Linked DNA regions of Homo sapiens. The protein of the gene in region 2 interacts with the protein of the main gene of each other region in a pairwise test. Each region holds a gene or a part of one and is shown on either strand. Other genes may lie near its edges. The genes, in order: RBL2 and E2F5.

Evidence for each region.
Region 1: the proteins of E2F5 (region 2) and RBL2 interact in a two-hybrid assay, tested with the Homo sapiens proteins (one study listed by BioGRID).

The regions. Positions count from the first base shown.
Region 1 is NC_000016.10:53,489,175-53,492,332, reverse strand, and holds the end of RBL2 (retinoblastoma-like protein 2), read right to left. Parts: intron 2,204-3,158; coding exon 2,033-2,203; 3' UTR 685-2,032; downstream 1-684. UniProt on the Homo sapiens protein: Key regulator of entry into cell division. Directly involved in heterochromatin formation by maintaining overall chromatin structure and, in particular, that of constitutive heterochromatin by stabilizing histone methylation.
Region 2 is NC_000008.11:85,175,617-85,180,102, reverse strand, and holds the start of E2F5 (transcription factor E2F5), read right to left. Parts: upstream 2,950-4,486; 5' UTR 2,683-2,949; coding exon 2,449-2,682; intron 1-2,448.

The DNA.
Region 1 (3,158 bases), on a different chromosome or scaffold from region 2:
CTGAAGAGTAAAACTGTGTGAACAATGACTGACTGCCAGTGTTTTCCATGTATGCATAGGTTCTAACAGCAGGGTTTGGAAACCTGTCTCTAAGTAATGCATTACTTCTGTCAGAAGTGTCTTAGGGTGGTTATCTAGTTCAGTACTCCAAATTATTGGGGACCTTGAGGCTTAAGTAAGTATTTTTCTGAATATAATGCTAAAGGTAAGTTGCATTCATTTAAACTAATAGAGCAGACAGAATTCAGCACTACTTAATAGTTTATAAATCAGTGGTTTCAGTTGTATATATGTTAGGAAATGGAGAGGTATAGAGAGAGCAGGTTCCATAGCTCAGCACTTTTAAGTGGAAGATCATTTGAATCTCAGTCTTCAGCCTGCACTGATTTGTAGCCTGCACTGTCTTACTGATTTACAAACTGAAATCACTGAGAAATGTCTTTAGTTCAGTGAGAAGAAACCAGAACACTTGTTCCTAGTGTTGTGTTGTTTTTTTTAAGCAAATTACTTACTGTATTTTTATGGCAGGAGGGAGAAAAAGTGTTACAACGGTTTCTAATGAAGTCCGGTATTTAAATGATAAATGACTAATGTGTTTAGTAGAGACAAAATAAACCAATAAATGATTGTTCTTTGCCATTTATGCAGGAAACTACCCTTTTCTCAATATAACCAAACAAAGGCTAATTTATAAATGCTTTATTGAAAAATACACTTATCTTCATATAAAATTACAGTAGCAGTATCTTGAGAAGTTTTATAAATATTTTTGCAGAACACTATTCTAATTGAACAATGTAAGTTCCATATTTCTCTCAGCAATATGAAGTTACCTAGTAACTTTGTTTATACTGATTCAATTTACAATTGAATTTTCTCCCTAATAAGATTATTAATTTGACTTGAAAACTGCTGGAACAATAGTGATTAATAAAGATATGTATAGATAATTCAGCTGTTAAATAACATTTTCTAATTTGTATAAATGGTACTATGGTACTAATAAAAACCTAAATTCTCCAACCAATTTTTTTAAACTGCCAGGAACACCCAAAAATATTTTTAAATATATCACCTTAATAGACATTTCTTTTAGATAACTCCCTCCTAAAGGAAGAGGTCATAAGTTTTCATATTAATCCCCTCAATTCAACTTGATTAAAATCTTTTCTTAGCTGGTTGATCCCTATATAACAAAAAACTGGAGAATTTAAAACATTCCCAAAAGGTGGCTATAGGGGTTTTAACATTTTAAAAAAATATAAAAGCATTAAAGAAAATATTGGATGTTTAGCCTGGAAGTTTTGTATTTAATAAAGTTCACATTGTAGAAAGTGCTATCACAAATATACAGCAAAATCTGGGTTACAAAATCATGCATTTTACAGCCCTAAAGTGCCTCCACTTATACAGGTTCACTCAGACATTGCACACCCGAACAATCAAGGACTTTTCACACTGCACCACACCGAATGGGGAGAGGGAAGATGTGCACAAAGGGAACGGGAGACGAGGGCTAATGACCTAGGACCTCCAAACCTGGGTGTGCTCTCCTTTGTCAGGAATGCAAAAAATCACACACTCCTACCAGGTGTTTTAGGACAAAATACCTAATTTTTGTTTTGCTTTTTATGAGGACTACAGCTGACCACAAAACAGGTAGGATTGAACTTGAAACACAGTTCTTCTGTTGGAGTACGTCAACAGAAGCCTCCTATGCTCACGTTTGGGTACACATCATTTTCTTGCAGTATTTCTAAAAGCTTTGCCAGAGTCAAAAATCCAAGTTTGGATTCTAAGCAGCCTTGACAGTAATCACTGAATGGTAGGGAAAAAAAGACAGTTGGGATGAATTAAAATGTTCTAAGGACACTGGAAGGAGTTAAGTCCCATTTCTCACCAAAATGTCCCCTCATGTTACTAACAGGCTGTAACTCATCAGCTGGATTAAGGAAAAAAGCTCCATAATCTAGATGCATTAAAGGCTGCTGCTAAACAGATTTTGTGAAGAGTTTAATACAAGAGACTAACCTCAGTGGGAACCACGGTCATTAGCTACATCTTGGAGACGGCGTAATAAGGCAGAATGATTTTCTGGGCAAATTCTTTTTGCAGGTGATTCACTTCCATCTTCCAAAAGAATTCCTCTCTTTTTAGTAGGAGTTTCTCCTGTGCGTATCATACTATTAATTTCTCTCAGTCTCTATGGTGGGAAAAAGATACAAAAATTTTAAAATGCAAATGCACATAGCTCAGTATTAAGTCAAAGAATCTCAAATGAGTTAAGCAGTTTACCCTGGAAGAGTTTGAACACATCTACAGAGAAAAGAAACACTAAGTTACATAACCTGCCAACTTTACTTTTCAGCTGGCTGAGGCCGATGGCTATTTGAGAAGGGGCTGAGTAGTTCTATTTTTAACAAGCTCTTCCACAGGCACTTTTGACCTGTAGGTCAATTATACATGTCTATAATTTGTGAGTTCACAAATTTGTGATTTTTTTTACAATTAGGGAGCATTACATTGCTATCTGATAGTCACTTAGACACATCTTTTTCTCTTTTTTAAAGTACAACTTTATACAATATTCCCTTTTTTTCAGTCTAATGTTACTCAGTTTTTAGCAGCCATTCTCAACTGGGATTTCACTAGAAAAGTAGGCCTTAATCCCCCCCTAAGGTATCCATTGTAGCTAATAAATTAGTAAGATCTAGAATGGTACTATCCTTGGGAGAATTGAGGATTAAAGTTACTCAAATTATTTTCTGGACAGTGGCTCAGATGAGGAGCTGCAATTGAGAAAGACACTGCCAGAATGTCAGAAAGACTGGGGCTGGCTGTACAGCACCTTTAGCATTCAGTTTCTCCAAAGCCTCTAAAAGTCGTCTGTCACATTATTTTCTGCTAGTTTGTTGGTTAAAATTCTTTTTCATGTGCTGCTTCATCCATGTTTGCTTACAGAAAGCATACTAAGCAAATTCACAGATATCTATTATAGGAAATTGTAAACATACAAAAGTAGAGAAGCATAATGCATCCTCACATACCTATTCCTCTACTTCAGCATGTTTGGCCAGCCTTGTTTGATTTATACTCTGATTCACTTCCATTCCCCAGATTATTTTAAAACAAATCCCAGACATATTTTATCATGACAC
Region 2 (4,486 bases):
GTTGCAGTGAGCAGAGATCTGCCACTGCACTCCAGCCTGGGTGACAGAGCAAGACTCAGTCTCAAAAAAAAAAGGCTTTAACGATCTTTTACTATGGTGTATAATAAGAAATATCATTGGAAAGATTTCAATGTAAGATTTTTGGCCGGGCGCGGTGGCTCACGCCTGTAATCCCAGCACTTTGGGAGGCCGAGGCGCGTGGATCACAAGGTCAGGAGATCGAGACCATCCTAGCTAACACAGTGAAACCCTGTCTCTACTAAAATTACAAAAAAATTAGCTGGGTGCGCTGGCGGGCGCCTGTAGTCCGAGCTACTCGGGAGGCTGACACAGGAGAATGGCGTGAACCCGGGAGGCGGAGCTTGCAGTGAGCCCAGATCGCGCCACTGCACTCCAGCCTGGGCGACAGAGCAAGACTCCGTCTCAAAAAAGAAAAAAAAAAGATTTTTACATATATAAGTATATATAAATAAATGAAAAATATACGTAAAATACATAAAACATATGTTTTTCATACATATATATGAAAACTAAAGACATTCAAACTCTTTTCTAGGAGTATGAAGTCATTAATATAATGAGACAGTGTTATTGTAGAAACCTTTGAATTTTTAGGAGAGTTCCAGAATGAATAAAGCAATTATTGTCATGAAATACCAAACTTTACATCCTACTCACTGCCTCTGTGACTTCTGTAGGGCAATTATATAGCCACAGATGAAACAGGAGGAAGCTAAAGAATTTCAAGTCAAGAAAGGGCAAAGTTCCACCATATCCTGAGGCAAGCTGAGGGAGAAGCCCTCAAAGTCCAGCCGTCAGAGTTCAGTTTTACCTGGAAAACCCCAAACTTCCCTGATTTTCTTACACCAAAGTCACAGGCTACAGCTGAATTTCTAGATTTTGAACAGCAGTTTGCCACCTGTGCTTTGTAACATTCCTGGCTTTCTCTGATAACTTCATGACTTCCTGTGAAATTCTTTAAACAGAATCCATTTTAATTCACTACAATTTAAATACTACACATGCCATAAATCACTTTCAGGGAGAGAAAGGAAGAAGGGGCTGTGGTGGAAAAAAGAGAACAAGGAATTTCCAGAGGTGGGAAAAAAATTCCAGGAATAACATATCAAAAAGAAAATAGTAGAAATTACTTACCAAAATGCAAAATATGTGCAGCATGCCTCAGTTGTATGAAGTTGAACAATTTAGGTAATTCAGTTCAACAATCACTGATTGAACACCAACTACATCCAGGGAAAGGAGAGGGCACTGAAAAGATCTACTTCCCCTTGGGCTACACTGGAGGAGGGCCTCTAGCAGAAGAGTTGGCCCCTGCAAGTCTTGGTCCTTACATTCAGGGAGCTGCCACTGCTTTATGCAGAGCCTTGAGGATGCAGTGACACTCTCAAGCCAGGTAAGGTGGTCCAGGCACTCCCCTGGGAGCTGGGGCCAATCCTCCAAGTAAGGCCACATTTAGGGAGTCAAAGGGGATTTGCAGTGATTATTGGGCAGTTAGTGTTTTTTGTTTGTTTGTTTCTAAAACTTTAGTTCTTAAACTTCGCGCGGAGTGACCACATTCTCATTATCCTGAGCGCTGTTGAATTCTTCCAAATCCTTCCTAGATCGGTTAAGTCATTCTGTATGACAGAACAGCTTTTGATGCCTGCTCCTGTTTGAAAAATCTGAACGCTGTAAAGGACGACGCAGGGAGAGAGTTTACTGAGCACTTCCACCTCTTTGGGTGAAAGTTGTAAAATATCCCCTTTTCGTGTGACAGCAGATCTCACTTTTGGAAACCCATGACACATGCCAAATGAAGTCACAAATCAAATACCCCTCCTAACTATCAGGGTGATGAAAGAAGTGCACAAGGAAGATTTAATACTATTTTATCGGGGAGGGGCGTGGAAAGAAGTACTCTTTTTTTTTTTTCTTTCATCTGGTAGAGATGGCAGACTGGGTTTTGTTTTTCCTCCTTTTTATTTAAACTACAGGAACATGGTTCCAACTGGAATCGCCTATTAAAACCATCCATTCTTAACAGCAAAATCGATATCCACGGTGTCTCCGGGCAAAGCGCCCGTTACCCCGTGAGCCTCTGCCACAGGTGGACGCAGAGCAACAGACACTCGGTTACCCTCAGGTCCCTGCGCCCGGAGACAGAAGCCACGCGGGCGCGCTCGAGGTCCTGGGCTCTTTGTCGAGAGCCCAGCGTGGCGCCGGGCCCCATTGGTTACGCGTCCGCTCGGTGCCATCCTGGTCCCTCGTCCCTCCCCCATCCCGGCGTCCACGACCCGGGCGCAGGCCACATGGTCCTCGGATTGCCCGGTCCCGGGTCCCCGCAAGGCGCGTCTACACCACGCCGCTAGACCCACGCGGCGAGGGGCTGGGCTTCCCCGGGGGCCACGGGTTCCGAAGTCCGCCCCCGTCCCCGCCTCCGGAGCTCACCGCTTTGAGATCCAGAACGCCGTCCTTGGCCTCCTGCAGCAGCGACACGAACTTGGTAGTGAGCAGCCCCAGGCTCTTCTCGTGCCTGCTGCTGCCGCCCCCGGCGCCCCCGAGCTGCGGCGGCGGGGGCGGCTGCGGGGCTTGCGCCTGCGGAGGCTGCGGCGGCGGCCGCTGGCCCTGCCCCTGCCCTGCCGGCGCCTGCTGGCCCGAGCTCGCGGGCTCTGCCGCCGCCATCGCGTCCCGGCCCCGCGGTGGTCGGGCCCCCGCGCACTTTCGCTCGCCGGCCCCGCCCGCGGCCACCTGCCGGGTCGGCTCCGCTGCGGCCGCTTCCCCGCCCGCCGAGAGCGGTAGTGCGGGTCGCTGGCTGCTGCAAACAACAGGTGTGCGGCGCCCACGGGAGTCTGGGCCGCTTGTCACGCCGGGCCTCCGCCCCCTCCCCAAGCCCGGGGAAGCGTGAATGAGGCCCACGACCGAGGGGGGAGGGGTGGAAACGAGGAGAAGGGGCTGCGAGGGGTGGGGACCTGAGTTTAAATGGCAGGAAGTGACGCCGCCGCCCGCCGTTGCCTAGAAACACATTTTTCTGTAGGAAGGAGGAGCGCACGAGGAGGAGGAGGGGTGTTGGCGCGTGTGTTTCACACTCGCCTCCCTGGCGTTCGCGAGCTGACCCGAGGAGTGGTAATCTCACGCGGCAAAGCAGGGAGGAAGAAAAAAAGGAGACAAAAGAAAAAAAGACTTTTATCTGGGCAGAAAGTCACAATGCCTAGCGGCCAAACGTTTGTGAGCGGTGAAGTTGGTTGACTGCTCAAGTTTGCAGAGCTTCAGCAGTAGGTTACTTTCTCTGGACGGTTTCTGCTATCTTTGCTCTTTTCGAGCTCTAGCATCGTTTGCAAATATTTCAATGACTTGGACCAAGTGCAGAGTTTTACTTCATAGCTCACCCTTTTAGATTCGGAGTACAGAAAAAGGCATCGTGGAGTTTTAGGGTTGGTTTTCATCAATCCTTTCCAAGGCCTTTACTTTCTACATGGAGAAACGTGTAGAGGGAGAGGTTGTGAATTGCCAAAGACATGCCGTTAGATTCCAGATCTCCTGTGTTTGACCAAAGTTCTTGACCAAAGTTCTTAATATCTTATTTGAACCAAATTATATTGTATTTGGAATATTGGGTAGCCACAGGCCCTTGGACTTCAGTGATATTCCAAACTATTGATGGCAAATGACATTATGGAGATCTGAGTAAAAGAAAGTCGTTGGGATTTTTTCCTCATTATATTACAAACTCTTGAGAATCCAGACTAAATTTTAAATGACTTGTTGTCACACTCAACACTTTGAATATAGTAGACAATAAAGATTAGGCGAATGAGACCAGGCGCGGTGGCTTACGCCTGTAATCCCAGCACTTTGGGAGGCCGAGGCAGGCAGATCATTTGAGATCAGGAGTTCGAGACCAACCTGGCCAACATGGTAAAACCCCGTCTCTACTAAAAATACAAAAATTAGCGGGGGGTGGTGGTGCCCGCCTATAGTCCCAGCTACTCCAGAGCCTGAGGCAGGAGAATCTCTTAAACCCAGGAGGCAGACGTTGCAGTGTTGCAGTGAGCCGAGATGCCACCACTGCACTTCAGCCTGGGCAACAAAGCAAGACTCTGTCTCAAATAAAAAAAAAAAAGATTAGGTGAATGAAAATTCTATATGGCAATAATTAATCAAGAAGATTTCATGCAAGAAAGATTTTGCTTAATTTTAAGTAACAATAAACTAACAAAAAAGGTCACTGAAGCGACATCAAATACAACAGCATTAACTAGTAAAGCTGAACACACCATTTATAACACATCATAGGCACAGAACTTTATAACCTTTATTAATAACCTATTCATAATAACCTTTATTTTAATCAAATCTATAAACAAAACTTAAAATTGAAAATCTGAAGTAAAACATGAAAAATTCAGTTGATACAACCATTTTCCAACAACCTATCCAAGAAAGGCTATCTTTATTTGATTTGACATGGGACACATCATTGACAAGT